4 separate regions of the Homo sapiens genome follow, and all the other regions are linked to region 2. The links come from fine-mapping of genetic effects on gene expression. A gene starts in region 2. Each other region holds a variant in brackets. All regions are shown on one strand. Distances are from middle to middle. Region 1 has its middle 33 kb from the start of TERB2. Region 2 holds the start of SORD (sorbitol dehydrogenase). Region 3 overlaps DUOX2 (dual oxidase 2). Region 4 has its middle 100 kb from the start of TRIM69.

Region 1 (7,884 bases), 32 kb before region 2:
TATTTGTATTTATTTAATTTTTATTTTTTGTTTTAATTTTTGTATTTTTAGTAGAGGTGGTATTTCACCATGTTGGCCAAGCTGTTCTCAAACTGCTGAACTCAAGTGATCTGCCAGCCTCGGCCTCCCAAAGTGCTGGGATTACAGGTGTGAGCCACCGTGCCCAGCCAAAAACAGAATAATTTTCATGTTGATTAGATGTTAAAATCATATTTAGGATATATTGGTTTAAATAAAATATATTGTTGAAATTAATTTCACCTTTTTTTTTTTTTTTTTTTTTTTTTTTTTTACTTTTTTAATGTGGCTACTTGACCATTTAAAGTTAGGTACACCCTGGGCAATATAGGGTGTAGACCCTCGTCTCTAGAAAAAAAATAATTAGTTGAGCATGGTGATGCATCCTTGTAGTCCCAGCTGCACGGGAGGCTGAGGCAAGAGGATCACTTGAGCCCATGGGTTCAAAGTTGCAATGAGCTATGATTGTGCCACTGCACTCCAGCTTGGGTGACAGAGTGAGACTCTGTCTCTAAAAATATAAATAAATAAAACTGTACATGGCCCACATTATACAGTTGGCCCTTCATATCTGTGGGTACTGCTTCTGTGGATTGAACCAACTGTGGATCAAATATACCTGGAAAAAAATAACAATACAACAATAAAAATAAATTTTAAAAATATAGTATAACAACTATTTACATAGAATTACATTGTCTTAGGTATTACAAGTAATCTAGAGATGATTTAAAATACACAGTAGGATGTGTGTAGGTTATAAGCACAAACTACACCATTTGATATAAGGGACTTGAGCATCGTGGATTTTGGTAGCTGTGTTGGAGGTGTCCTGAAACCAATCCTCTGCATATCCCAAGAGACCACTGTATTTCTATTGGACAGTGCTGTTCTAAAGGCTGTTCCCCAGGCTCAGGTACCCTAGGAAATTTGGAAAACCCTTGGGGGAAACAGATAGATCTTGATACTGAGCCGGGACCCAGTCCCACTGGTATTTACCAGTCCTGACCTGGATCCAAACTCCCAGGGACTTTGGAAGTGCTATAGGCGTCACTTGGGTCTAGGCTATGGTGGAGTCAGGTCACAGATAGGAAACTTGGTTCTCTCCGTTCTGTGTTTCCCTGTGACTCAGGCCACAAGAACATATGTGACAGGGTGTTGGTTTGTTTTTTGTGTTTCTTTAAAGTGGCTTCCTTGAAGACACAAATAGCTTCTGAATGGCAATGATAAGGAGCCAGTCTGGTAGAGTCTTTCATAAGAGCAACTAAGCTTTTGATCATTAATCATTTAGCATACTGCTTGCCTAGGTGACTTCTTATATACAGAAAAAGGCGGCAAGGTGACGACTGAAACAAGATGCTATGCTGCCAGCTTTCAAGATGGAGGAAGGTCCCCAAGAATGCAGCTCTAGATGCTGGAAAAGAGAAATAAACAGATTCTCCCCTAGAGCCTCTGGAGGGAGCTCAACTTTGCAGACACTTGGATTTTGGCTCAGTGACACTGATTTCAGACTTCTGACCTCCAGAACTGTGAGAGAATGAATGTGTACTGTTTTTAGCCACCAAGTCTGTGGTAATTTATAACAGCAGCCATAGGAAATGAATACAGCCAGGCACTATTCTAAAGGACTCCCTTGTATTGGTTCATCCAACTCTCACCTCTTCCCATCTCCTCATTGATGATGGGGAGGTGTATCCAGGGATCATACTTACCAATCTACCATCCTCACTAGGCTTCACCACACACCTGTACTCACATGTGCAGAACCTTCCTGACCCACTTTATTCTAGGCCAGGGAGAGACCTGAAGAGCCTCAAGCCACAGCTTTCTCCCAAACCACTCCTCACCAATCCCATAACCCCATAACCCAGGGTCCAGAGTGAAAGAAGTTGCAACAAGGAAAAAATAATTATCTTTTCACTGACTTGTTTTGTAAATCTGGATTTTTATATTAGGTTAGGATGAAGGTGGCACCTTCCTCCATCTCAAGGGCCAGCAGCATAACATCTGGTTTCCATCATCACATTGCTGCCTTCCTCAGTAAAACCCTTCCTAGATTTTACTCCCTCTATCTCCCTCTTATAAGGACACTTGTGATTACATTTAGGGTCCACCCAGGTAACCCAAGAAAATTTCCCCATCTCAAGATACTTAATAACATCTGCAAAGACCCTTTTTCCATTAAGGTAACATTCACAGATTCCAGGGATTAGCACCTAGATATCTTTCATGGCCATTATTTAGCTGCCACAGTTGTATAAAGCAAATGCTTAAGAAACTAGCTATTATTATTACTGTGCTAAGCACTTTTTATGTGCTAATTAATCCTCACTACAACACTATGAAGCAGAGACTATGGGTATCCCATCTTACAGAGAAGAAAGAGGCTTAGAGAGCTTAAGCAGTTGCCTAAAATCAGATGGCAAGTGTCAGAGCCCATGCTCTTAGCCTCCATACAGGCTGATTTGGGGAGCACACCTATGACTGCACTTGTGGTAAGGATGACGCTCACCCTACTTTTCCATTTGAATCATTTGAGTGGTTGTATGTGTTCTTGGAGTAGGGGTGGTCTTTCCCCATAGAGTGTCATCTCTTTCAGGACAAGGAGTCTGTCTGTCATGCACTTTCTCTTGTGGTTTGGTGCTCTGCACATACTGAAAACAAAATTAATATTGTTGATTTAACTGCCAAAGCTGGAGCACATAAGGATCATTAAGTGCAAAGAATACTGATCAAACAGAACAAGCTCTACCTCCTTATTTGCCAACCCCTAGAAGTTGAAATGGTGACAGGGGTGAGTTGAAAAGGAAGAAGTTTAGTTTTACCTTCTAAAGGTCAGCCTGTCTGTTGTCTGGTACAGGTAGAGATTACAACAATAACCCTTCAGGAAAACATTACATTTTGTCCCATGAAAAATAAACAGCATTTTGTCCATGCGTCACATACTAGTCTTTCTGGCATGATGGACTGTGGTTAAACTCAGCATATCCTGGGAATGGGTAGGAGAGGGACATCATTGAGTAGGAGAAAGTGAAACTGGGAAATGAACTGTGGAGAAAGAGATCTCCACAGGGTCAGTGACAAGTATTCAGAATGATCATGGGAAAAAGCGTAGTGTGGAGGAAAAGGGGGGCCGTGGAAGTGACTGAAGTTCAGACTGCATTCTGGGAGATGAAAGAAGCAAACAAGGGCACAGCACTAAGGAAGGAGAGGAGAAGGAGTTTGAGTTATACAAGATGTTCTCTGAAAAATGAAAGATACCAGAAGTGGCCATATTAAAAACCATCTCATAATGGACCTGCTTTACTTCAGAAGGGATAAGTGCTAGTATTTGCTAAGTCTGAGAAGTCACCATCACAGTCTTGTCATGATGAAGCATGCAGTGGCCACCCCAGAAACCTGAATCACCAAAGCTTCCTTTCCTCACCTCATTGCCATATAAACTGACTAGACTGGGATGGGAGAAAAAGATGGAGGCTTAAAAATATCCTCTCCAGCATCACCCAGGCACTAAGGGCAGTGAGGTGGCCAAGGTCCCATTTCTAGGGCTTTTAGATTTCCATTGATACCGCTCTAGGGGATTTGATGGATGTGCTTGTTGGCTCATCATGTCATCCCCTTTCCATAGGCACATCTGTAAAAATGTCACCAGAAGGTGGCCCAGTGAGCAGGAAACCCCAGGGGTGGGGTACGGGAGGCTCCATGGTTCTAATGGCTGATGCCACCCTGCTTCACTGGCCTGATGCCTCCATGTCTGTTATTAGGGTGTTCCTACTGTGGGGATTGGCACATTGTTTTCGTCCTATGTTATTATGCAACCGATTAGGTTGAGACTTAACCTAATCCGGTGCAGTCCAGTTCCTATTTTCCAAAGATGACAGTATACCCAGGCCACTTAAATTTGATCTGGGTGTTGGTGAGACTATTACACACCCACAAATAATCCAATAATCTCTTTGGCTGTGTCATTTCTACTGGTGTCTAACCTCATCCTTTTTATTTGGGTCCCATTGATTTATATTCTAAGTTTTAGGGATACTTTGGGGTGTCATCCCAACATATTGCCTGTATAAATACTGTCTCCTTAATTCCACAATTGAACATTACAGAGAGTTAGTGTTATTCTTATTTTACGTCTGAAAAAAATGGACACTAACAGGTTTGGTAACTTGTCCAAAATCACGTAGCTAGTAAATTCTAAGAATTGTGATTCCAGGCGGGCGCGGTGGCTCACGCCTGTAATCCCAGCACTTTGGGAGGCTGAGGCAGGCAGATCACGAGGTCAGGAGATCGAGACCATCCTGGCTAACACGGTGAAACCCCATCTTTACTAAAAATACAAAAAAAAAAATTAGCCAGGTGTGGTGGCAGGCGCCTG[C/T]ACTCCCAGCTACTCAGGAGGCTGAGGCAGGAGAATGGCGTGAACCCAAGCAATGGAGCGTGCCGTGAGCTGAGATTGTGCCACTGCACTCCAGCCTGGGCGACAGAGCGAGACTCTGTCAAAAAACAACAACAACAACAAAAAAGAATTGTGATTCCATCTCTGATCACTCTGGTTTTAAAGTTCAGTCTTTTCCTACATAATGCTGAAGTGACCGGGAAAAGTCAAGCTTCTAAATTGGCAATTCAATTGGGAATTTACTATTATGGTCTGTGATGATGACATCTTATATCATGTACAACAGTGGATCAAACCTGACTGCACATCAGATCATGTTGTTGAGCTTTTAAAAACTATACATGCTTGGCGAGGTGTGGTGGCTCATACCTGTAATCCCAGCACTTTGGGAGGCCGGGCATATCACCTGAGGTCGGGAGTTCAAGACCAGCCTGACCGACATGGAGAAATCCTGTCTCTACTAAAAAATACAAAAAATTAGCTAGGCATGATGGCACATGCGTGTAATCCCAGCTACTCGGGAGGCTGAGGCAGGAGAATAGCTTCAACCTGGGAGGCAGAGCTTGGGATGAGCCAAGATCGTGCTATTGCAATTCAGCCTGGGCAACAAGAGCAAAACTCCATCTCAAAAACAAACAAACAAACAAAAAAACAAAAAACTATACATGCTTTGAATGTATTAATACAATTAGATTTGCTAATATTTTGTTCAGAATTTTCACATGTATGTTGATGAGAGAGATCATCCTGTAATTTTCCTTTCTTGTAATGTCCTTGTCTGTTTTGGATATCAAGGTTATGCTGGCCTCATAAAACAAGTTATAAAGTGTTCTCTTCTCTCTCTTTTTTTTTTTGGCAGTGACAGGGTTGCACCTTGTTGCGCAGGCTGGTCTCAAACTCCTTGGCTCAAGGGATCTACCAGCCTTGGCCTCTCAAACTGCTGGGATTATAGGCATGAGCTACTGCACCTGGTTCTTCTCTTCTTTTTTAATGCCTTCTATATAGACAATGTTATCTGTACTATTTCTATAGTTTATATCTCACAAATATTTTCATTTTGGCCTAATACATGGTCAATTTTTGTGAATTATCCACAGATACTTTAAAAAAAAGGTGTATTCTCTTTTTTGAGTACCAAGTTTTATCTGTTATTAATTATGCTATTTAATCCTTCTCTGTCATTTCGGCGTCTACTACAATGTTTCCATTTTTTCTTGTATATCCTGTGATTTTATGTTTTAATTAATATTCATGGAGGTGCTAAGTTATTTGGTGCTTAGGTATTTATAACATTGTAACTGGTGAACTGCATTTTTTTATCATTATAGATTATTTATTTGTACCCCTTAACATTTGTTTGTCCCAATGTTAGCCTTGCCTGATGGGGAGAAACCAGAGCAGAAAAGCAGGAAATTCCAAAAATCAGAGCACCTCTTCTCCTCCAAAGGATTGCAGCTCCTCGCCAGCAATGGAACAAAACTGGACAGAAAATAAGTTTGACGAGTTGACAGAAGTAGGCTTCAGAAGGTCGATAATAACAAACTTCTCCAAGCTAAAGGAGGATGTTTGAACTCATCATGAGGAAGCTAAAAACCTTGAAAAAAGGTTAGATAAATGGCTAACTAGAATAAATATGTAGAGAAGACCTTAAATGACCTGATGGCGCTGAAAACCACAGCACGAGAACTGCATGACACATGCACAAGATTCAATAGCTGATTCGATCAAGTGGAAGAAAGGGTATCAGTGATTGAAGATCAAATTAATGAAATATAGTGAGAAGACAAGATAAGAGAAAAAAGAGTGAAAAGAAATGAACAAAGCCTCCAAGAAATATGGGACTTGTGAAAAGACCAAATCTACATTTGATTTGTGTACCTGAAAGTGATAGGGAGAATGGAAACAAGTTGGAAAATACTCTTCAGAATATTATCCAGGAGAACTTCCACAACCTAGCAAGGTAGGCCAACATTCAAATTAAGGAAATACAGAGAACGCCACAAAGATACTCCTTGAGGAGAGCAACACCAAGACACACAATTGTCAGACTTACCAAGGTTGAAATGAAGGAAAAAATGTTAAGGGCAGCCAGAGAGAAAGATCAGGTTACCCACAAAGGGAAGCCCATCAGACTAACAGCAGATCTCTCGGCAGAAACTCTACAAGCCAGAAGAGAGTGGGGGCCGATATTCAACATTCTTCGAGAAAAGAATTTTCAACCCAGAATTTCATATTCAGCCAAACTAAGCTTCATAAGTGAAGGAGAAATAAAATCCTTTACAGACAAATAAATGCTGAGAGGTTTTGTCACCACCAGGCCTCCCTTTATAAGAGCTCCTGAAGGAAATAGTAAACATGGAAAGCAACAACCAGTACCAGCCACTGCAAAAACATGCCAAATTTTAAAGACCATCAATGCTAGGAAGAAACTGCATCAATTAACAGGCAAAATAACCAGCTAACATCATAATGACAGGATCAAATTCACACATAACAATATTAACCTTAAATGTAAATGGCCTAAATGACCCAATTAAAAGACACAGACTGACAAATTGGATAAAGAGTCAAGACTCATCAGTGTGCTGTATTCAGGAGACCCATCTCACATGCAGAAATGCACATCAGCTCAAAATAAAGGGATGGAGGAAGATCTACCAAGTAAATGGAAAGCAAAAAAAAAAAAAAAAAAAAAAAGCAGGGGTTGCAATCCTAGTCTCTGATAAAACAGACTTTAAATCAACAAAGATCAAAAGAGACAAAGAAGGCCATTACATAATGGTAAAGGGATCAATTCAAAAAGAAGAGCTAACTATCCTAAATATATATGCACCCAATACAGGAGCACCCAGATTCATAAAGCAAGTCCTTAGAGACCTACAAATAGACTTAGACTCCCACACAATAATGGGAGACATTAACACCCCACTGTCAATGTTAGACAGATCAACGAGACAGAAGGCTAACAAGGATATCCAGGACTTGAACTCAGCTCTGCACCAAGCGGACCTAATAGACATCTACAGAACTCTCCACCCCAAATCAACAGAATATACATTCTTCTCACCATCACATCACACTTATTCCACAATTGACCACATAATTAGAAGTAAAGCCCTCCTCAGCAAATGTAAAAGAACAGAAATCACAACAAACTGTCTCTCAGACCACAGTGCAAACAAATTAGAACTCAGGATTAAGAAACTCACTCAAAACTGGAAAACTACATGGAAACTGAACAACCTGCTCCTGAATTACTGGGTAAATAACGAAATGAAGGTAGAAATAAAGATGTTCTTTGAAACCAATAAGAGCAAAGACACAATGTACCAGAATCTCTGGGATACATTTAAAGCAGTGTGTGAGGGAAATTTATAGCATGAAATGCCCACAACAGAAAGCAGGAAAGATCTAAATTCAATACCCTATCATCACAATGGAAAGAACTAGAGAAGCAAGAGTAAACATAT
Region 2 (7,401 bases):
ATTTCTTCTAGATTTTCTAGTTTATTTCCATAGAGGTGGTTATAGTATTCTCTGATGGTAGTTTGTATTTCTGTGGGATCGGTGGTGATATCCCCTTTATCATTTTTTATTGTGTCTATTTGATTCTTCTCTCATTTCTTCTTTATTAGTCTTGCTAGCAGTCTGTCGATTTTGTTGATCTTTTCAAAAAACCAGCTCCTGAATTCACTGATTATTTTGAAGGGTTTTTTGTGTCTCTATCTCCTTCAGTTCTGCTCTGATCTTAGTTATTTCTTGCCTTCTGTTAGCTTTTGAATTTGTTTGCTCTTGCTTCTCTAGTTCTTTTAATTGTGATGTTAGGGTGTTGATTTTAGATCTTTCCTACTTTGTCTTCTGGGCATTTAGTGCTATAAATTTCCCTCTACACACTGCTTTAAATGTGTCCCAGAGATTCTGGTACTTTGTGTCTTTGTTCTCATTGGTTTCAAGGAACATCTTTATTTCTGCCTTCATTTCATTATTTACCCAGTAGTCATTCAGGAACAGTACAGTTTTCATGTAGTTTTGTGGTTTTGAGTGAGTTTCTTAATCCTGAGTTCTAATTTGATTGCGCTGTGGTCTCAGAGGCAGTGTGTTGTGATTTCTGTTCTTTTACATTTGCTGAGAAGTGCTTTACTTCCAACTATGTGGTCAATTTTGGAATAAGTGCTATGTGGTGCTTAGAAGAATGTATATTCTGTTGATTTGGGGTGGAGAGTTCTGTAGATGTCTACTAGGTCTGCCTGGTGCAGAGCTGAGTTCAAGTCCTGGATATCCTTGTTAACATTCTGTCTTGTTGATCTGTCTAATATTGACAGTTGGATGTTAAAGTCTCCCATTATCATGGTGTGGGAGTCTAAGTCTCTTTGTAAGTCTCTAAGGACTTGTTTTATGAATCTGGGTGCTCCTGTATTGGGTGCATAAATATTTAGGATAGTTAGCTCTTCTTTTTGAATTGATCCCTTTACCACTATGTAATGGCCTTCTCTGTCTCTTGATCTTTGTTGGTTCAAAGTCTGTTTTATCAGAGACTAGGATTGAAACCCCTGCTTTTTTTTTTTTTTTTTTGGCTTTCCATTTGCTTGTTAGATCTTCTTCCATCCCTTTATTTTGAGCCGATGTGAGTCTCTGCAGGTGAGATGGGTCTCCTGAATACAGCACACTGATGGGTCTTGAATCTTTACCTAATTTGCCAGTCCATGTCTTTTAACTGGGGCATTTAGCCCGTTTATATTTAAGGTTAATATAGTAGGCTTCAGAAGGTTGGTAATAACATACTTCTCCCAGCTAAAGAAGGATGTTTGAACCCATCATGCATTGTTATGTGTGAATTTGATCCTGTCATTTTGATGTTAGCTGGTTATTTTGCCCATTATTTAATGCATTTTCTTCCTAGCATTGATGGTCTTTAAAATTTGGCATGTTTTTGCAGTGGCTGGTACTGGTTGTTGCTTTCCATGTTTAGTGTTTCCTTCAGGAGCTCTTGTAAGGGAGGCCTGGTGGTGACAAAACCTCTCAGCATTTGCTTGTCTGTAAAGTATTTTATTTCTCCTTCACTTATGATGCTTAGTTTGGCTGAATATGAAATTCTGGGTTGAAAATTCTTTTCTTGAAGAATGTTGAATATTGGCCCCCACTCTCTTCTGGCTTGTAGAGTTTCTGCTGAGAGATCCAGTGCTAGTCTGAGGGGCTTCCCTTTGTGGGTAATCCGACCTTTCTCTCTGGCTGCGCTTAACATTTTTTCCTTCATTTCAACCTTGGTGAATCTGGCAATTGTGTGTCTCGGGGTTGCTCTTCTTGAGGAGTATCTTTGTGGTGTTCTCTGTATTTCCTTAATTTGAATGTTGGCCTGTCTTGCTAGGTTGTGGAAGTTCTCCTGGATAATATCCTGAAGAGTGTTTTCCAACTTGTTTCCATTCTCCCTGTCACTTTCAGGTACACCAATCAAATGTAGATTTGGTCTTTTCACATAGTCCCATATTTCTCGGAGGCTTTGTTCATTTCTTTTTACTCTTTTTTCTCTAAACTTCTCCTCTCACTTTATTTCATTAATTTGATCTTCAATCACTGATATCCTTTCTTCCATTTGAATGAATTGGCTGTTGAAGCTTGTGCATGCATCACATAGTTCTTGTGCCATGGTTTTCAGCTCCATCAGGTCATTTAAGGTCTTCTCTACACTATTTATTCCAGTTAGCCATTCGTCTAATCTTTTTTCAAGGTTTTTAGCTTCTTTGCGATGGGTTTGAACATCCTCCTTTAGCTGGGAGAAGTATGTTATTACCAACCTTCTGAAGCCTACTTCTCTCAGCTCATCAAAGTCATTCTCCGTCCACCTTTGGTCCGTTGCTGATGAGGAGCTGTGATCTTTTGGAGGAGAAGAGGCACTCTGGATTTTAGAATTTTCCGTTTTTCTGCTCTGGTTTCTCCCCATCTTCGTGGTTTTATCTACCTTTGATGCTGGTGACCTACAGATGGGGTTTTGGTGTGGATGTCCTTTTTGTTGATGTTGATGCTATTCCTATTTGCTAGTTTTCCTTCTAAGAGTCAGGTCCCTCAGCTGCAGATCTGTTGGAGTTTGCGGGAGGTCAACTCCAAACCCTGTTTACCTGAGTATTACCAGTGGAGGCTGCAGAACAGCAAATATTGCAGAAGAGCAAATGTTGCTGCCTGATCCTTCCTCTGGAAGCTTCGTCCCACAGGGGCACCCGCCTGTATGAGGTGTCAGTTGGCCCCTACTGGGAAGTGTCTCCCAGTTAGGCTACATGGGGGCCAGGGACCCACTTGAGGAGGCAGTCTGTCCATTCTCAGAGCTCAAACACTGTACTGGGAGAGCCACTGCTCTCTTCAGAGCTGTCAGACAGGGACGTTTAAGTCTGCAGAAGTTTCTGCTGTCTTTTGTTCACCTATGCCCTGCCCCCAGAGGTGAGGTCTACAGAGGCAGCAGACCTTGCAGAGCTGCGGTGGGCTCTGCCCAGTTCAACCTTCCCGGCTGCTTTGTTTACCTACTCAAGCCTCAGCAATGGCGGACGCCCCTCCCCTGCCAGGCTGCTGCCTCAGACTGCTGTGCTAGTAGTGAGCAAGGCTCTGTGGGCGTGGGACCCACTGAGCCAGGCACAGGATTTAATCTCCTGGTGTGCCATTTGCTAAGACCGTTGGAAAAGTGCAGTATTTGGGTGAGAGTGTCCTGATTTTCCAGGTACAGTCTGTCACAGCTTTCCTTGGCTAGGAAAGGGAAATCCCCCAACCGCTTGCGCTTCCCGGGTGAGGCAATGCCCCTCCCTGCTTCGGCTCACCCTCCATGGGCTGCAGCCACTGTCCAACCAGTCCCAATGAGATGAACCAGGTACCTCAGTTGGAAATGCAGAAATCACCGTCTTCTGCATCGATCACACTGGGAGCTGCAGACCGGAGCTGTTCCTATTTGGCCATCTTGGAACGGAATCTGGATGATTTACTTTTGGCTACCAATTTGGAAGCCTCATGCCAGCAGGCTACTCTAGATCTCTTGAACTTTCTAGGTAATCAAGCGGGCAAGGTGTCTAAACTGAAAGCCCAGCTCTGCCTACAACAAGTCAAATATCTAGGCCTAATCTTAGCCAGAGGAACCAGGGCCCTCAGCAAGGAACAAATACAGCCTATACTGGCACCGGTCCCTCAAGGCGTAGCACCAACCAGATTGATAAACTCACTTATCTGACCTTGTGGCCCTCGCCCAGAAACTGACTCAGTCCAAGAAGACAGCTTAGATCCCCTATGATTTCATCTCTGACCCAAACAATCAGCACTCCTGACTCACTGGCCTTTCCCCACCCATCAAACTATCCTTAAAAACTCTGAGTCCCCGTATGCTCGAATGCTTGGGGAGCCGGATTTGAGCAATAATGAAATTCCAGTCTCCTGCATAGCTGGTTCTGCATGAACTCTTTCCCTATTGCAGTTCCCCTGTCTTGATAAATTAGTTTTGTCTAGGCAGCAGGCAAGGTGAATCCATTGGGCGGTTACATATTGGGGAGGGGGGACTGTAAGGGAATGAAATCCTGAGCATTATCCTCAAAGGAGGGAGGGGCCTTATAGACTTAGGCCTATCTAGAAGCGCCTCTCTCCTCAGAGAGTAAAACCTCACTGTTTCTCAGAGGGCTGAGAGGCTTGAAGGAAGAGTTTGGGCAGAAACTCTGCTTTGAATAGAAGCAGCAGATCCAGTTGAGAGAAAGAGGTTCACAAATTCCATTTCATGGCTTTTTTTTTTTTAAAGACAGATTTTCACTCTTGTTGCCCAGGCTGGTGTTGAATGGCATGATCTCAGCTCACTGCAACCTCTGCTTCCCAGGTTCAAGCTATTCTCCTGTCTCAGCCTCCCGAGTAGCTGAGATTAAGGCGCATGCCACCATGCCCGGCTAATTTTTGTATTTTTAGTAGAGACGGGGTTTTCACCATATTGGTCAGGCTGGTCTCGAACTCCTGACCTCAGGTGATCCACCTGCCTCGGCTTCCCAAAGTGCTGGGATTACAGGCAAGAGCCACTGCGCCCGGCCTCATGTCTTTTTTATACTTAAGCACCAGGCCCATGTAATGATGCACGAATTCATTTACTCCTACTCGTGCCAGGCCCTTTCCTGGGGGCTGGAGACAAAGGGCCGACGTGGACGCTGCGTCATGGTAGCACCTGTCTCGCAAAGTGCACACCGTGCTCCACCCACAGCCTCAGCATTCTCGTTGCTAGGAATATGGACCCTCAGGCAGCACCTCAGACCTAGACCTACTGTATCAGAATCTCTGTGCTGGTCCTGAGAATGTGCATTCTCAACAGCGCCTCACATTCCCCACCCCAATTCTTCTGCAGCTAACGTTTGAGAGCGCTGGTCTGGTGCCTACTGCCTCTGCAGGCGGTTTTCAAGGCAGCCGTGTGTGCTTGCATGTGAGGCGGCAAAAACAGCGCGCTGCAGGGCCGGCGCGGTGGCTCACGCCTGTAATCCCAGCACTTTGGGAGGCGGAGGCGGGTGGATCACGAGGTCAGGATATCGAGACCATCCTGGCTAACACGGTGAAACCCCGTCTCTACTAAACAAAAATACGTGGTGGTGGGCGCCTGTAGTCCCAGCTATTCGGGAGGCTGAGGCAGGAGAATGGCTTGAACCCGGGAGGCAGAGCTTGCAGTGAGCCGGGATCGCACCACTGTACTCCAGCCTCGGCGACAAACAAACAAACAAACAAAAAAAACAGCGCGCTGCAGATGGAGCCAGCACCCGGGCTTCTCGCTCCCAGCCCCCTCCCGAAGCCCCGCCCCGCCTCCGGGTCTGGAGGAGGCTGGGAAGCCCCGCCCCTCCACGCTAGCGCCGCCCAGGCTGGCACAAAGGAGGAAGCCTAGTCCCGCCCCTGCGTGCGGCGCTTCTCCCAGGCCCCACCTTCCATCCAGTGCCCTGGACCCTCGGCTGGGTAGCGCCACCAGAGCGACCAAACGTCCCGCGCCTTCCAGGCCGCACTCCAGAGCCAAAAGAGCTCCATGGCGGCGGCGGCCAAGCCCAACAACCTTTCCCTGGTGGTGCACGGACCGGGGGACTTGCGCCTGGTAAGCTGGGAAGGAGGGTGGGAAGCATACCGATCCTGCCTCACTCTCCTCTGAGCCCAGCCATAGTCCTGGCTTCCCACTTCCAGCCTGGCGCCGGCCCCGCACCTTAAGCGCCCTGGCTGCCCAGATCCCAGCTGGTTCCCCTCGGGGTGTGGGGGCAGCAGGTAGTGGCTGTTGCGAAGGGCAGGGATCTAGTCGTGTGCCTCCCGGAACCTAGCCCCGTGGCTGGCACGTGGCCGGTGCCCAGGACGGTTGCAAACTGTTTGAATGAAGCTTTCTCTCTCCTTTGCCAGCTGCAGATTCATAGTCCAGCCTCTTGTCATTGACCTTTCCAAAGGAAATGCTAAGGCTGTCTGAATTATCGGGGCAGACCGTGCAGAGCAGAGAAAGGGGGGCCAGAGGACACTTAGAAACAGCAGAACTTGTATTTAACTCCCTTGCTTGGGACTGATAAACCTCCCTTGCAGGATTATGATGATCACAAGAGTACTCAGCACTTAGTACGTGCTCAGGAAGTGCCAGCTCCTTCTCCTTTCCTTCCAGTCTAGGCCTCCATCTCCAGAACCCCTGCTGTTCCCCTTGCCTGTGCCAGACTTGTGGATCTTGATAGCTCCCTTGTCTGTAAGGATCCTTCTCTCCCTAAGACCCTGTCTGGTTCACTTTCCAGCAGTTTTTCTTTCCAATCCCGTGCCTCTGTCCCTTTAGGAGCATTCTGTATGTGTGTCCTCTGCCTTAGACCCTGCCTTTTGCTCCCTGGCTTGTGGCACCAAAGTTTAGGAAGTGGCTGAGTCAGCAGCCTAGTCATGCCAAGCCTCCCTTGACAAAGTCCCTCTCAGATGGGCCTGGGATGGCAGTGGGTATGTGGGATGAGTGCCAGCCATCTCTGCTGCTCCCCTGTACCTCTTTTCCCTCAAAGTACATGCGTCAGTATGTAAACTGCAGTAATTCAGAAGCTTATCCAGGTTAGCAGTTCTTGACTATTTAAGAATCTGTGGTGTCCCCTCCACAGAATGCAAATAGACTGAGTTTGGCAACAATTTCAGACTGCTCAAGGACTCCCTTTAAGCCGCTCTAAGCCCCTCTATAGAACCCTTGTCCCAGCTGACTCTCCATCTCCTCAGTTGAAGAAAGTACCATACCCAAGGTGATAGGTTTTGTTAGTTAACAGAGCCACGACAAGGACTCAGATGTTCAGACTCCCCATTCTAGTGCTCATTCCACTCTTTGGAGCCTCCACCCAAGGTCCTGAATTAAAGTGAGGCTGTTAGTGTTTACTGTTGCAAATGCCAGATGGTATTATGAGTAAGGGAAAGTGGTCCAGCTCTACCCAGCTTGCAGAGTGATTTCCAACTCAGTACTTCATTCCACAAACATTCACTCATGAAAGGGTGCCTGCCATGTGCCAGGCACTGGGCTGAGGGCCCAGAAAGGAGGACACAGCCCCTGCTCCCAAGTTTACTGAGGGAGGCAGACAGATAAAGTCAACAATTATGACAGAGCCCGAGGGCTTTGATGGAGGCCTCAGAGAGAAAAGACGCCACAGGGAGGGGCCCTTGGCCCTCTATCTGCTCAGAGCCTGCTTAAAAGTCATGCACCTAAGGTGCAGAAACACAGTTAAGTTCTCCTTCATCTTACCTCAAACTCATGGTCTTCCACTGCTCAGGCAGACTACCTCTACTATGGTTCCGTAGACAAAGCTTTGAAGATTAGAGCAGCAGCGAACTAACCTTGATCTCATCAGCTTTGCATTAGAACCCACTCTCTGACTGGATTAGGGGCTAGGTTGGGGTGGCTGTAACCTGAAGTATCTAGAA
Region 3 (6,530 bases), 69 kb after region 2:
TTTTCCAGAACGACAGTGGGTGTTGTTTCCATATCACACTGGGTGTTGGCAGATCCAAAGGTAAGAGGAATCCAAAGATGCTCTTTCCTTCAAAAGATGCCATCTTTAGGGTCTGGCTGTGGAAGAGGAACGTAGTCCAGTCAGCAGGGTGAGTACTCCAGCCCAGTGATGAATGTGTACATGGACCTTCTTTATCCTTCAAGGTTAAGCTCAAAATCCCCCTCTTGCAAGGACCTTTTCTGAATTCCCTTTCTGAATCCACTCATCTTAGCATTTAATCAGTTGCTTATCACATAGTGTAATGTATTCACGAAATATCCCATGAGAATGTGCTCTCTGTCTGGCACTTTACTAGGCAGGGGAAAAATGACAGTGAACTATAGGCATAGGTCCTGCCCTCTAGGGGGCTTATAGCAGAGAAGGAAAGAGGAACATTGAGCAAGCATTGTGCTTGCTGGTGTGATGAGTTACTGTACTTTCTCCCTAGAGCTGGATTGGTTTTTGGCTCCTGGAGGGCAGGAAGTATGTCTTGCTTTTCTTTTGGACCCTGTGGGATCTAGTATGATCTGTGTTCACAGCAGTTGTTCAATGAATACCATCAGAACAATTAACAATGGAAAATATATTATGAAAAACCTTGATTGCTTATACCTTTAGAGGCATCAGGATGCAAAGAGCAGAGACTCTGAGATATCATAGGATTCAAACCCTCACTTTGCCTGTTACTAGCTGGATGCCCGTGGGTGATGTACTCTGAGTCCCACATGCCTCGTCTATACAATGGAGGCAGTAATACCTTCTCCAGAGAGTTATTGTGAGGATTAAGTGAGGCAATTTATGTAAATGTGTTACAGGACCCAACACAAAGTAAACCTGTAAATATTAGTTCCCTTTCCCCAGACTATTTAACCTTGGTTGAGAGGCCAAGGAAACTGTTTTCTTCTATCCATTTGAGACACCGAGTGCAGAAGGGAAGAGTGAAGTTGCAGGTCTAGAAGGGGTCTTAGCCTAATCCTTTTTTTTTTTTTTTTTGTGAGACAGGTTCTCACTCTGTCACTCAGGCTGGAGTGCAGTGGCAATCTCAGCTCACTGCAACCTCTACCTCCCAGGTTCAAGAGATTCTTGTGCCTCCACCACCTGAGTAGCTGGGATTACAGGCACCCGCCACCACATCTGGCTAATTTTTGTATTTTTGTATTTTTAGCATTTTTGTATTTTCCCCATGGGGAAACATGGGTTTCCCCATGTTGACCAGGCTGATCTCGAACTCCTGGCCTCAAGTGATCCACCTGCCTTGGCCTCCCAAAGTGCTGGGATTACAGACGTGAGCCACCGTGCCCGGCCAGCCTAATTCTTTTATTTTCTTGGTAAGACAAATAGAAGCCCATAAAACTCAGGTGACTTCCCTCAGGTTACTTGGTGATTTGAGCAGTAATGCTGGAAACAAAACTCAGGTCCCCTGATTCCAGCATCCAGTGCATTTTGGGCAGCCTTTCCTAAATTCTCACTGCCAGCCTCTCACTCTCAGAAAAGCTAGAGCCTTCATGTTACAGCTCATCTGAGGTCACTGGCCAGGGAAGATAAGGGTTCCTGTGAAATCAGGGAGAGACTTCCCAGGAAATTTACAGCTCCCTGGAGACAAGACAGGGAGGTGGTCACTTAGTAATTTTCCACTCCATGCAAGGTCAGGATGGATTGACTTTCACATGATCAGGGTGGCTGGGTAGTGTGTCCCTGGAGGTTAGAGCAGGCCTCCTCCTGGCTTCACAGAGCCAGAACCTGGTGGGACACAAGAAAGTGAGCGGGAAGCTGGGGAAATGAGAAGGAGGGATGATGAGATAGGGGATAAATCTGGATTAGAAACAAGTCACTCACCATTACTCAGGCCCCACAAACCGCAAACTCCTCAGACTATGGAGCTCTGCTGTCAGAGCTTCGGCTTCTCTTACTAATAGGTGATGCTCGTAACAATATTACTAGGTGCCAGGCACAATTAAGGGCTCTCCATACATTAGCTTCACCTGAACGCTTGCAGCCTGCTTTTGAGTGACAGGATAAAGTGGTAGTTAAGGGCATGATATCTGGTTAAACTTTCTGGGTTCAAATCTAGTCTCCTCCCAAAGTGGGAAGATCTGCTTGAGCCCAGCAGTTCGAGACGAGTCTGGGCAACATGTCTCTACAAAAAACTTTAAAATTAACTAGGTATGGTAGTGCATGCCTGTAGTCCCAGCTACTGGGGAGACTGACGCAGGAGGATTGCTGGAGCTCAGAAGTTCAAGGTTACAGTGAGCTATGATCATACCACTGCGCTCCAGCCTAGGTGGCAGAGCGAGACCCTGTCTCTATAAAAAGAAAAACCTAGTCTGTCTTCTCACTTACATTCTAGATAACTTTGAGCAAGTTGTTTAAGCCTCTTCGTGCTTCAGTGTCCCTTATCTGTAAAATGGGGATTGTGGCTGTTCTAAGGATTAAGTGAGTTAATGCATTTCAAGT[C/A]CTTATGATAGCACTGGGCACACAGCAAGCTCTGTATGCATTAATCATCATAGTTTTGTTGTCGTCATCTTAGAGGGCTTTCTTTAATCATCCTATCTAAAGAGTTCCCCTTAGTCAGTCACTATCATTTCATAGTTTTATTATCTTCAAAGCACTTGTGATCTGTGACCTCCTTCTTCTCTTCCTCTTCCTTCTATCTTGTTCATTGTCTGTTTCCTTCCACTAACATTTAAGTTCCCTAGAAGCTGTGCCTGTGCCCGGGACATAATAGATGCTCAACACATATTTGTTGAATTGAATTATATTATTAGATCTTCCCAAACCCTATGGAGCAGGTAATCATGTTATCCCCATTTTATGAAGGAGCAAACTGAGGCCCTGAGAGTTTTCTTTGTTTTCTCAAGGTCACCCAGCTAGGACTCAAACCCAATTTGACTTAAGAGCCCTCACTCTTAAGTACTATGCTGGATTGACTCCTCTTACTCAAAAATTCTTAATAAATAAGGAGATATCTGCACTCCCATGTTTATTGCAGCACTGTTCACAATAGCCAAGATTTGGAAGCAAGCTAAATGTCCATAAACAGATGAGTGGATAAAGAAAAAATGGTACATATCACAGTGGAGAGCTATTAAGTCATAAAAAAGAATGAGATCCTGTCATTTGCAACAATATGGATGGACCTGGAGAGTACTGTGTTCAGTGAAATAAGCCAAGCACAGAAAGCCAAACGTTGCGTGTTCTCACTTATTTGTGGGATCTAAAAATCAAAACAACTGGACTCATAGAGATAGAGAATAGAACAATGGTTACCAGAGTTGAGGGTGTTGGGAGAAGTGGGGGTTGTTCATGGGTACAAAAATGAAAGAATGAATAAGACATAGTATTTGCTACCACAGCAGAGAGACTATAGTAAAAAATAATTTAATTGTACGTTTAAAAATAACTTAAAAAGTATAATTGGATTGTTTGTAACACAAAGGATGAATGTTTGAGGTGATGGATACTCTCCCCTTCAAAAAAAGAAAATATATTTAGACCTATTTCTAAGCAAAAAAGTTAATGTCAGGACAGTATATGAACTATGATTCAGTCATAATGTGTACGTAAATACAGTATGTGTATACATGTATAAACAAAACCAAACAAAATGAAAATTCTTAGTAAGTAGACAGGAATTATGCCACATCTTAGCAATGTTCTCCTCTTTCACTTGAGGCAGAAGTTGGGGCTGGAAAGTTGGAAAAAGGGGCAAAGATCCAGCCTTCATTCCTCTCCTACAGAGCTCAGCTTCAGCCCCTCCTGTCCTCATCCACTCCTTTTCCCCCTGGCCCCAAAGCCCTTCCATCCAATCTCATGCTTGTCTTCCTCTTCTCCATCCACAGTCCCATTACCATCCAATCCCACCCGATTCCTTGTCCATCCCTGTTTCATTCTCATCCTCATCCCTATTCCTGGGAGGCAGGGTTTGGGTTGGGCTTTGTCCCAAAGCCTGAGACAAACATCTCTGTAACCCAGAGCGGGGAAGATTTGCTTTCCTTTACACGGTTTATGTGATCATTTCCACGAATTCCCTCTGAGTCATCTTCCATCTTTCTCTGGGACATTTTTGTAGCCTCCCTCGTTTGCACATTTTTCAGTCTAATCCCTCCCCGACACACACTTATGCAATGACCTCGCTTTCTGAACCCAAGGTATCACCCAATAGCTGCCTGATCCTGCCTTCTAGCCCACTTCTCAAAGAGTTGGTCATAAAGCCCCAGGAAGGGTAGGACCAGGTTAGTATCTAGGCAAGTGTTGAGGCTGAAGACACTTTTAACCTCTCTGCAAGTCCTTGACTTTTATCCCTGTCATTCAGTGGCTTTCTGGGACTCTGTGCAGGGTTAGACAGAGCAGCCAGATCACATGAATACATGCTTAGGGCTGACATCTACAGCCTGACTGGCGTGTGGAGTCAGGACTGAGGCCAGGCAGGCTGAGTGCCATCTGAAGTGACTCAAGATAATGGCAGCATGTCCCTCTATCCAGCTGGACATACACTTGGCATTGCCCGGTGTTTGGGCAAGAGTTGGCTGGGGATACATCTTCAGTGATGACAAAGTCTTTGGGAGATCCTCACTTAGGCCCCAGCATGGCAGGGAAGTCAGGGCTAAGCAGAGAGTTTTATGGATAATCTTGATAGCCATGTTAATGCCATTCTCCAGTCTAGCAAGGATGGGTGAATTAGGATGGAATGAATAAATACTTTGCACAGTTTTTAGAAAGGCATAGGGAGGAACTGCAGGGTCAGATTTGGGAGTAAAGCTAAGGCTGAGACTGAAGGGGCTGGAGTTTGGGATTACTGACTGGTTGTGCACTTACTAAGGGCAGGAAGGCTGGAGGACTGCAGGAATGATGCTGTTGATAAATAGGTGAACTCATAATCATCACGCACCGCAACTATGGAACACAGTCTCCTGCCTTTTCTCATCTGTGTAATTGTCTGGGCCAATATTGTTATTTGACTTCCCAATACTCTCACAGACATTTGAATAAATGAGGAAGAGGCCCAGAGGAGTTAAGGGATTTCCCTCCATAGCTATTTGCAGATAAAGTGGGCACTAGAATCCAGGTCTCTTGACTTCTGATTGGTGCTCTTCCAGCCTTGTCAGAGAGATACCTTCAACAGAGGGGGTTGGGAACCAGAGGCATTTGGCCTGGCTGAAGAGGTAGGGTGGGGCCAGTGAGAAGACAAACCTGGTCTGAAACTCTCCCTCCACAGGTCCTACTGGCTGGATAACTGTATGACCCAGCAATTCCACTCATAGATACATACTCAAGAGAAATGAGTGCATGATGGCCACCAAAACATAGGTACAAGAACACTCACAGAATTTTTATTTATAATCATTCAAAATTAGAAACAACCCAAACGTCCATCAACAGAAGAATAAACAAACTGTGGTACATCTCTACAATAGAATACTACTCAGCAATGAAAAGGAACAAACTGCTGATACACACAACAGCATGGATGAATTACAAAGGCATTATGGTGAGTAAAAGAGGCCAGTCTCAAAAGAGTATATTTAGTAGGACCAAAACTGGATTTGGTAGAAATCACATCAGTGGTTGCTTCTAGGAGCTAGGGGAGACGAAGTGGAAGGGGGTACAAGGGGAGTTTCTGGGGTGATGGAAATGTTGAAACATTCTATGTCTTGACCTGGGTGGTGGTAAAACATGTACATGATTATTTATTATACCTCGATGTAAAATATTTTACAGCTCAGCTTTTTAGGAAAGAGCCCGATGAAAAAGGAAAAGAAAAGTTAAAGAGCTGAGTATGGAGGGGATGTTTCAGCCTGGCTCTTGCGTAAGGTGACCAGCTGTCCCAATCTGCCTGGGACTGATGGGGTTTCCTGGGGCAAGAGACTTTCAGTGCTAAAACAGGGAGAGTCCTGGGCAAACTAGGACAGCTGGTCACCCAACTCTTGTGGAAGAGGGGAATTGAGATCGAGTACTGAATATCTGGCAGAGAGGCTGGAATCCTTCAGCCCCAGAGCCCAGGGACCACTCCAGTAGATGCAGAGAGGGGCCTGCCCAGGGGTCAGGGCAGTGGGTATCACTGGTGACATCAAGAATATCAGGGCTGGGGAGGCATCTTTGTTTCCTGGTGCCCTCCTCAAAGTTGCTGACACTTTGGGGACGGGAAGGGGTAGAAGTAGGGCTGCTCCTTTTGGAGCTGGAGGGAATAGACCTGGAGACAGAGTTGAGGCAGTCGGGCTGTCCAGGTTCTAAGCATCACAGCTTCTGCACTGGGCTCTGAGGAGATTCTCAGCCAGAGGATCCCAGCCTCCTCCTCCCTCAAATGTCAGTCCAAGCAAATACCAAAGCAACGCATCGATTTTGTGGAAGTCAATTAGAGATGTGGGGAGCTATCGGAGACAAGCACTATTGTACCTTTTCACCTCCACACTTGTCACAAGCAGGGACTGTCTCCTCCCCACTTTGCTTGCCACGCCTGCCATGGCTTGAGCTGGGGTGAGGAGTGGTCTTTA
Region 4 (7,884 bases), 190 kb before region 2:
ACATCTGCTCTCCCACTTGTCCAGGCCACGGACAGGAACCATATCTTTTGTGTGTCTCTAGCATCTATCCCAGTGCCTGGCATGATAAGACCTTAGCGGCTGTTTGTTGAATGCAGAAGAGAATGAATCCATGAAGAATTATTCTCTACATAAAATACGCTCCTAGTGCTGGGTTCTATTTAATCCTCTCAAACCTCAGAGCTAAAATTTTCCCACTTACTCCTGGGCACTAGTGGAGATAATCTCAAAGAACCACGGGATTCAAGGAAACACAAACTTACTCAGAAAATAAGAAATCTCAGAAGGTCTGGACTTGTTTTCCTGTTCTTTCTTTGCCCCTACCTTCGTGAGAACCCATCACACCTCCCCCAGAGAGAGACATATTCCTTTTAGGTGCCCTCTGAGGACCACCTGGAGAGGGTTCTTAAGTGAGCTGGCTCCCTGGGTTGGCCCAGGTGCCCAGATAGCCCCAGGATACTCAGGTATCCAAGGATTTGCCTGAGACACCTGCTTCCCCATAGTATCTGCATGCTATGTGACACTATGGTTTTAATATAAAAATCAGACCCACAGAATGAAAGCAATGCAGAATATCTTTGGGGGTTTACTTTTTGTACACATCCCCTAAGAACAATTTTGTGAGCTCCCTCAGAAAACAAAACACTGAAAAATAATACCTGAAATGTCCAACAAAGCATGATTAAAAAACTACATGGCTACTAAAAATTACGCCATAACTCTTTATCTATTGACATGGAAAAATGTTCACAGTATATTGATTTTTTTTTTTTTTTGGAGACAGAGTCTTGCTCTGTCACCCAGGCTGGAGTGTAGTGTTGCAATCTCAGCTCACTGCAACCTTCGCCTCCCGGGTTCAAGCAATTCTCTCACCTCAGCCTCCTAAGTAGTGGAGATTACAGGCGCCCGCCACCAAGCCTGGCTACTTTTTGTTTTTTTAGTAGAGACAGGGTTTCACCATGTTGGCCAGGCTGATCTCAAATTCCTGACCTCAGGTGATCTGCCTGCCTCAGCCTCCCAAAGTGCTAGGATTACAGGCATGAGCCACTGTGCCCAGCCTGATTTTTAAAAAAGAGTAGGTAAAGGAAGCGTATTTAGCATGGTCTCAGAAAAAACCAACTAACTAAAAGATTCTATACCCAAATATTAATAGTGGTTCTCTTGGGCTAATCGGTAATGGGATTACAGGTGAATTTCTGTGTGTGTGTGTGTTGGGGGCAAGGCATGCATGTGTGTGGTATGTGTGACTTATTTTCCTTTTCTATGGTAAAAAGGTACTGGATCCATGCAGATTTTTATAAGAATCTGTCACCTGAGTCCCGCAGTCTGCTAGCCCATTGTGGCAAGTCTATTCTACATCCATCACCCCTCTTAGGAAGCCGTGTGATCACTTATTTGGCCAGCCAAAGAAAATCACAAACAAGTATGAGGAACACCAGATCACACCCACAAGGAGTGTGAGCGTACTGTCTGGGTCACCAGAATGATTCGTTCTGAGGCTGCTAGGGCTTGTTCCAGATGGCTGGAAAGATGGCTGGAAACAGGGGATGAGAGAAGGCAGCTAGCTACAACCCTACTGCAGGCAGACTGCTGGCTCACAGTGGTGTGGGAGCAGACCACTGCTCACTCCTCCCACTGGCTGGGAGCAGGGTCTACCTTATTCATAGATGGGACTAGGCCATCACTTTGCTGGTATAATTTGAAAGTTCCAAGAGTTGCCCTTCCCTTTACTATCAAAAATATTTCTCTAAGGTGGAGGTTGCAGTGAGCCAAGATCACGCAAATAAAAAAATTTTCCTAGTTTCCCATCAAGGGTTCAAAAATAATCGCCAGATTAATTCCCTTTTTTTTTTTTTTTTTTTTTTTTTTTGAGACAGAATCTCGCTCTGTCGCCCAGGCTGGAGCGCAGTGGCATGATCTTTGCTCACTGCAACCTCTGCTTCCCAGGTTCAAGTGATTCTCCTGTCTCGTCCTTCCATGTAAGTGGGACTACAGGGGGCGCACCACCACACCCAGCTAATTTTTGTATTTTTAGTAAAGATGAGGTTTCATCATGTTGGCCAGGCTGGTCTTGAACTTTCGGCCTCAAGTGATCCACCCGCCTCAGCCTTCCCGAGTGCTGGGATTATAGGCATGAGACACTGTGCCTGGCACAGATTCATTCTTTTTGTTTGTTTGTTTTGAGATGGGGTCTTGTTTTTTTTGAGACAGGGTCTTGTTCTGCCACCCAGACTGGAGTTCAGTGGCACAATCATGGCTCACTGCACTCTTGACCTCCCAGGCTCAAGTGACCCTCCCACCTCAGCCTTCTGAGTAGCTGGGACTATAGGCACACACTACCACACCGGCTAATTTTTGTATTTTTTTGTAGAGATGGGGTTTCACCATGTTACCCAGACTGGTCTCGAACTCCTGGGTTCAAGTGATCCACCGGCTTTGGTCTCCCAAAGTGCTGGGATTATAGGCAGGAGCCACCGTGCCCAGCCAATTCATTCTTTAAATGAATGAAAGGGCTATGTTGCCTAGGACATATAACCCTAGTTAATATCATGTCCACAGATACTCATTTGTTTAGCAAAGTGCTAGTCACTGAGGGAATGGGACACTGCAATCCTCCTTTACCCAGAAGGATTCTAGAACAAATCTCAAGCCTTGGAGGGGGAATGAGATGGGCAGAGGGTTCCCTGAATTCCCAGTCAATGAACCCGCAACAGGGTGGCTTCTGTTTCTTACCAGCTCCACACACAAGGACCTTGTGTCCCAGGGTAACTCCGCCTCTCCTGCAGGCATGGATCCCCACAGAAAGTGGATCAATCAGGGCGCCTTCCTCAAAGGTGACATTGTCAGGAAGCCTGAGGAGTCAATTGACACACAGAGATCCTCTGAGTTAACTACAATGCTAACAATAGTATTATATATGCCCAACGTCACTGTAATAACAACAATAGCTAACATTTATTGAGCATTTATTTATGTGCAGAGCAATGTGCTAAGCAATTTATATACATTAACTCACGTAAATCCCTGGAATAGTTCTGTGGTAGGTACTATCATTCCCATTTTACAGATGAGGAAACAGGCGTGGTGGGTTAAATGACTTGCCCCAGCGGTCCAAAGCTAGTGAGGAGCCAAAAGCGTTCAAATTAGAAGCCAGATATGTTCTCATCACAGAACCCATGCCACAATGTCCCCATCTGAAGAAGGCAACATGGTTTTCTTTGGGTAAATCAATTCAGTGAAATGAACACATTATGTTTTCTTTAATGTGCTATCCAAGGTACGGTATGGTGGTTATCATTAATAAATGAAAAGTTTGTTTATTTATTTACTTATTTATTTATTTATTTATTTTTGAGATGGAGTCTCACTCTATCTCCCAGGCTGGAGTGTAGTGGCGCAATCTCGGCTCACTGCAAGCTCTGTCTCCCAGGTTCACGCCATTCTCTCACCTCAGCCTCCTGAGCAGCTGGGACTACAGGCGCCCGCCACCATGCCGGGCTAATTTTTTATATTTTCTAGTAGAGACGGGGTTTCACCGTGTTATCCAGGATGGTCTCGACCTCCTGACCTTGTGATCCGCCCGCCTCAGCCTCCCAAAGTGCTGGGATTATAGGTGTGAGCCACCATGCCCGGCCGAAAAGTTTATTTAACAAGGAGTTAATATGGCCACCTTCCAGCATCTCATCTGCTTCCCAAACTTACAGCCTTTTTAGTTTCACTTTAGCAAACAATCCTGACTATCACCAGTTTTGCAGAACAGTGATTTAGCAATGGGCATCACTCTGATAGTCGCCTCCCATATTATACATTCCAGAAGAACCACATCTGAGGACAGCAGCTGCCCCGCTGACCCAGGACCAGTTAAGATGAAAGGACCTGTTCCACATAGCAGATTAAATGCTGTGTCACCTTCACTCTGGGTTCTAGGTTTTCACTTCCACTGGCATCTTAACCCTATCAATAATACAGCTGATGACGACAGCAAATATCTGCATAAAGCTTTACAGATTAGGAAGCATGCTCATCCGTTATCTCATTTAATCCTCATGAAAACCATGTTAGGCAGGTAGGGCAGGCTTTTTTTAAAAAACATTTATTTTACAGAAGAGTAAACGGAAACTCACTGACATGACATTAAGAGAA[T/C]TGCCAAGGTTATGAAGCTAGGGAATGAAGGCCAGACTTAACAAAGGTGTCCTGATTCCACATCCTCTGCCTGTCCCATATCAGCTCCATCCTGGTATGAGCAGCTGTGTAGCTAATATTAATATCTAATTTCTGCTAGTTCCTCACTGCCCAGGATTTACCCAGCACCCCAAATCTCCACACACAGGAACAGGAAAACCCTCAAGTTCCAAAAAGAAATAAATGTGACAGCCAAACCATGTGCTCATCCCCATGATCCTTTCAACACTGTCTCCAATCTTCAACAGAATAACTCGGAGTCCTCCTGTCACTGTCCCTGATCCTTGACAGAACTACTCACCAGGCCAATGGAGGCCCAGCTGCCACCCACCACCCCCTTATCCCTTCCCCTCGGCTTCTTTCCCATCACTTCCCCTACTCCAATCCACTCTCCTGCTCTGACTGCGGTCACACTCCTTCTACTCCCCCTAGAAGTATCCCTTCTATATAATAGGAAAAAGGTGAAAATGAAATTGTGAAGATGCCTAAACTCTCTTAGGGACTCCACAGGTTCCTAGACATGCCTGCCCTTCCACATCTGGGCCTCCTGAGGAACTCATAAGGGCTCTATGCAGAGGGTGGCTTGCGTGGAAACTACATCAAGGAGAGATGGGATTGGGGAAGGTGATGAGGGAAGATTGTTATCAGGAAGAATACTCTACTGATTAAGCAGATGCTGCCTCATCCGCCTGCACCCAACACAGCCAACTGTGTTGGAAAGCCACCTGGTGTGGAGGCAGAAGCATGCACAAGGAGTCCTGGAGGCCAGCCCCGCTGCCACTGACCTTGGGAAAACCACTGACTCCACCCTCCCCAATCTTGTCCAGTGGGGGTTGATGGAGAACGAGGATGAGAAGACTCCAAGTTTCTTCCCAGCCCCAACCTTTCATGCTTTATAAACACCAGAGAGTGATGAGGCAACTTGGTAGTTTTTACAATGGGGTTCAGGGAACAGTCCAAATTGGGTAACGGATGATCAAGAAGCCAAGGAGGAAGCAGGAAAATAGAAAGAAAATAGATACAAAAATAAAGAGGCTGTGGTAGTATGGGAATCCTAAAAAGACATCAGAGAGGAGGGCTTGGGTCTAGGGAAGAACTGGGGACACAGGCAGAAAGCCCCCTGGGAGGAGAAGAAAGGCAGGGCTGTAGGACTCCCCAGAGACCTTCCTCAGCACCCCCACTGCCACTGCCACTGCCAGCCAGAGCCCCATCATTCCCTATAAACCACCAGCACAAGGCTCTCTTTCAGGCCTACTCCTGCACCTCCATGCCCAGACCACTAGGCCATGACTATGGCATAGCTTGGTACCATTTACTGAGCACCTACTATGTGCCAGACCTCATGCTGGAGACTTGATATGCTTTTCTCATTGGATCTCATCAGTAATTCTGTGAGGGAGGTACCATTACTATTTCTATTTTACAGGCGAGGATATTGAGGTTACAAAATTTAAGTGACTTGCCCAAGGTCACACAGTTGTAATTGGCAGAGACCAGTGGGCTTCACCACTATGCTCTTCTGCCTTCCATGAAACTTTCGTTTGGTGTCTTGACTTGGAAAGGGCCCCAGAAAGATGGGCCCATTCAGGAACCACTTGCTGAAAGGTGTACTCTGCACATGTAACCTGCTTACTTCTAGAGCAGGTTCAGGTGTTGACTTAAACCCATCACAAGGTCTCTGGCCTGTGACTCCTCTCAAGGCTCCCAGTGGGCCCTAGAAAAACTCAGATCTGTCAGACTGCTCCTGTGACTGGCACCTGGCCTCCATCGGACAAGCCCCATCCTGGCTGAAAACCACCACTGAGGCCAGGCTGCGGTGGGGGAAGAATGCATCTGGGTTGGGTCAGGGGGAAAGCGGCACTTCGGCACCCTAGAGCTCCACGGCTGGGGCCATGGGGGGCCACGCAGAAAGGGAGGCACTTTGCTTCCTCCAGACTCAACTTCACAATTTCAGGGGTGAGAATTGGAGTAGGGTAGGGGAGTGGGCACAGGGCAGGAGCTTGAGACTCACAGAGACCCCAGTTTGACTCTTGGTTGTGCTCTGTGCCCAAGTCAATGAGCTTCCTTCTGCCTTGGTTAACCCAAAAATGGTGCCCACCTCAGCATTATTCTTGTGGAGATTAAATAAATTGAAGCATGCAAACCACTTATTAGCACAAGGGCAGGCACATAGTAATAATAATTATGACTCTCCATGCATCACCTTATTTAATATTTTGGCGATTAAATGAAACTGAAGCAGAGAAAAGTTAAATCATTTCTCCAAATTCACTTGCCAGGAGGGAGTAGATCCAGGATCCCAGAACTCAAGCCCTGGCAGCACACCACACCTCAGGAAATGTCAGCCGTTGCTGTCATGGTGTGTTGTTGCTATTGTCGAGGTCATTGTTGTTACAGGTTTCCTTTCTGGTGGTTGCAGTGGAAACTAATAACAGAGGATGAACCACAGGAATTCCCTCCAGGATGTCTGCAGAGGGTGAGTGATTTCAGCAATAATTTTCTATTGTTGCTCTAAGTAAGGGAAACTGGAACTGAAAGACTAAAACCAACCACTGTGAGTCAGTCTTATTCCTAGGGAGGCTACCCTCTCTCAATGCCACCAAGAAGAGTAGCCTGCCCAGGCGATGCCTCATGTTTGGAATTAGGAGCTGAAAGAATAAAGAAATAACCACAGGAAACAGCACCAAGTTAATGAAGGGAAAGAGGTCCCAGGTGACCCAGTGGGACTGTGGACACTAACTTGTAACAAAAGGCTGCATTGTGCTTATAGAACTGGCAGAGGTTCCCATCATCAGGGGGTGTGGCACAGAAGAAGATGGAAGGTGACAGATTGTATCGGCCCATCTTGCAGAATTCATCATTTTCTCGGGGAGCACCAGATTCGATGGCAACACGATCACCTGGAGAGGAAAACAAAGATGGCACCATGTCCGAGGGTGGGAGCAGAGTCTGCCTCCTCTTTGGTCCGGTTCTTTGTTTTCCAACCTTTGAAAACAGCAGAAGCAGAGATGTTATGAAGGCTTGCATGCTCATGGGCAGATGCCAGATGAGAGAATCTAGCTTAACGAGCCACCCTCCTCCCTGGGGACCCAGGGTGTCTTAGGCAAGTGAGGAAACTCGGGATGAAGCACAGAGTCACTCTGGGGGAAAAGGACCAGCCCCCTCCTCCACAGCCCAGTGTGGCCTGCCCTTTTTCCAGCTCCTGCAACAAGCCAAGCCACCCTCTATCTCCACAGCCACTTCCCAGCTAAGGCAAGCCAAGTATAGTTCCCATCTCACACTGCTGGAAAAGGGGTAGCTAATACATGGAGTTTGCAGGCATTTTTTCTTCATCTGTTTGGAAGATAGAAAGCAAAGCCTTTACAAAGACAACAGCTATAATTACAGCATGTTTTATGTCCAGTTTGGTCGTTTTTAGACAATAATTAGGAGTCAACTGATTCCTGGTAGTAGAACTGCAAAGGCCAATGACCTGCAGAGGCCTCATACAGTGGAGAGTAATACTTGAGGCTTCTGAACAGCCAGCTCTATTATATTTCTACTCTATGCCTCACAACGACTGCTTGGAAACCCAGCCTGAGAACTGCTCTCTAATTGTTTTCTTTTTCTGTCTTTTTATTATGAAGAATTTCAAACACACAGCAAAATTCAAAGAATTGTATAGTCAACACCTGGATACCCTCC

Evidence for each region.
Region 1: its variant is fine-mapped to the expression of SORD in whole blood (TOPMed, PIP above 0.99).
Region 3: its variant is fine-mapped to the expression of SORD in monocytes after interferon gamma (Fairfax 2014, PIP 0.95). The same link has a PIP of 0.9 or more in monocytes after LPS.
Region 4: its variant is fine-mapped to the expression of SORD in lung (TOPMed, PIP 0.99).

The regions. Positions count from the first base shown.
Region 1 is chr15:44,985,350-44,993,233 of GRCh38, forward strand. No RefSeq gene overlaps it. Among named protein-coding and RNA genes, the nearest start is that of TERB2, 33 kb to the left of the region's middle. The variant C/T (reference allele first, on the strand shown) is at 4,397.
Region 2 is chr15:45,017,763-45,025,163 of GRCh38, forward strand. SORD (sorbitol dehydrogenase) reads left to right here and starts at 5,433. Exons shown (of 9, transcript NM_003104.6): 1 at 5,433-5,587. The coding sequence starts at 5,522. RefSeq lists a silencer at 5,213-5,382 and an enhancer at 6,152-6,802.
Region 3 is chr15:45,087,307-45,093,836 of GRCh38, forward strand. It overlaps DUOX2 (dual oxidase 2), which reads right to left. Exons shown (of 34, transcript NM_001363711.2): 34 at 5,344-6,530. Among named protein-coding and RNA genes, the nearest start is that of DUOX2, 24 kb to the right of the region's middle. The variant C/A (reference allele first, on the strand shown) is at 2,494.
Region 4 is chr15:44,832,431-44,840,314 of GRCh38, forward strand. It overlaps the pseudogene SORD2P. Among named protein-coding and RNA genes, the nearest start is that of TRIM69, 100 kb to the left of the region's middle. The variant T/C (reference allele first, on the strand shown) is at 4,162.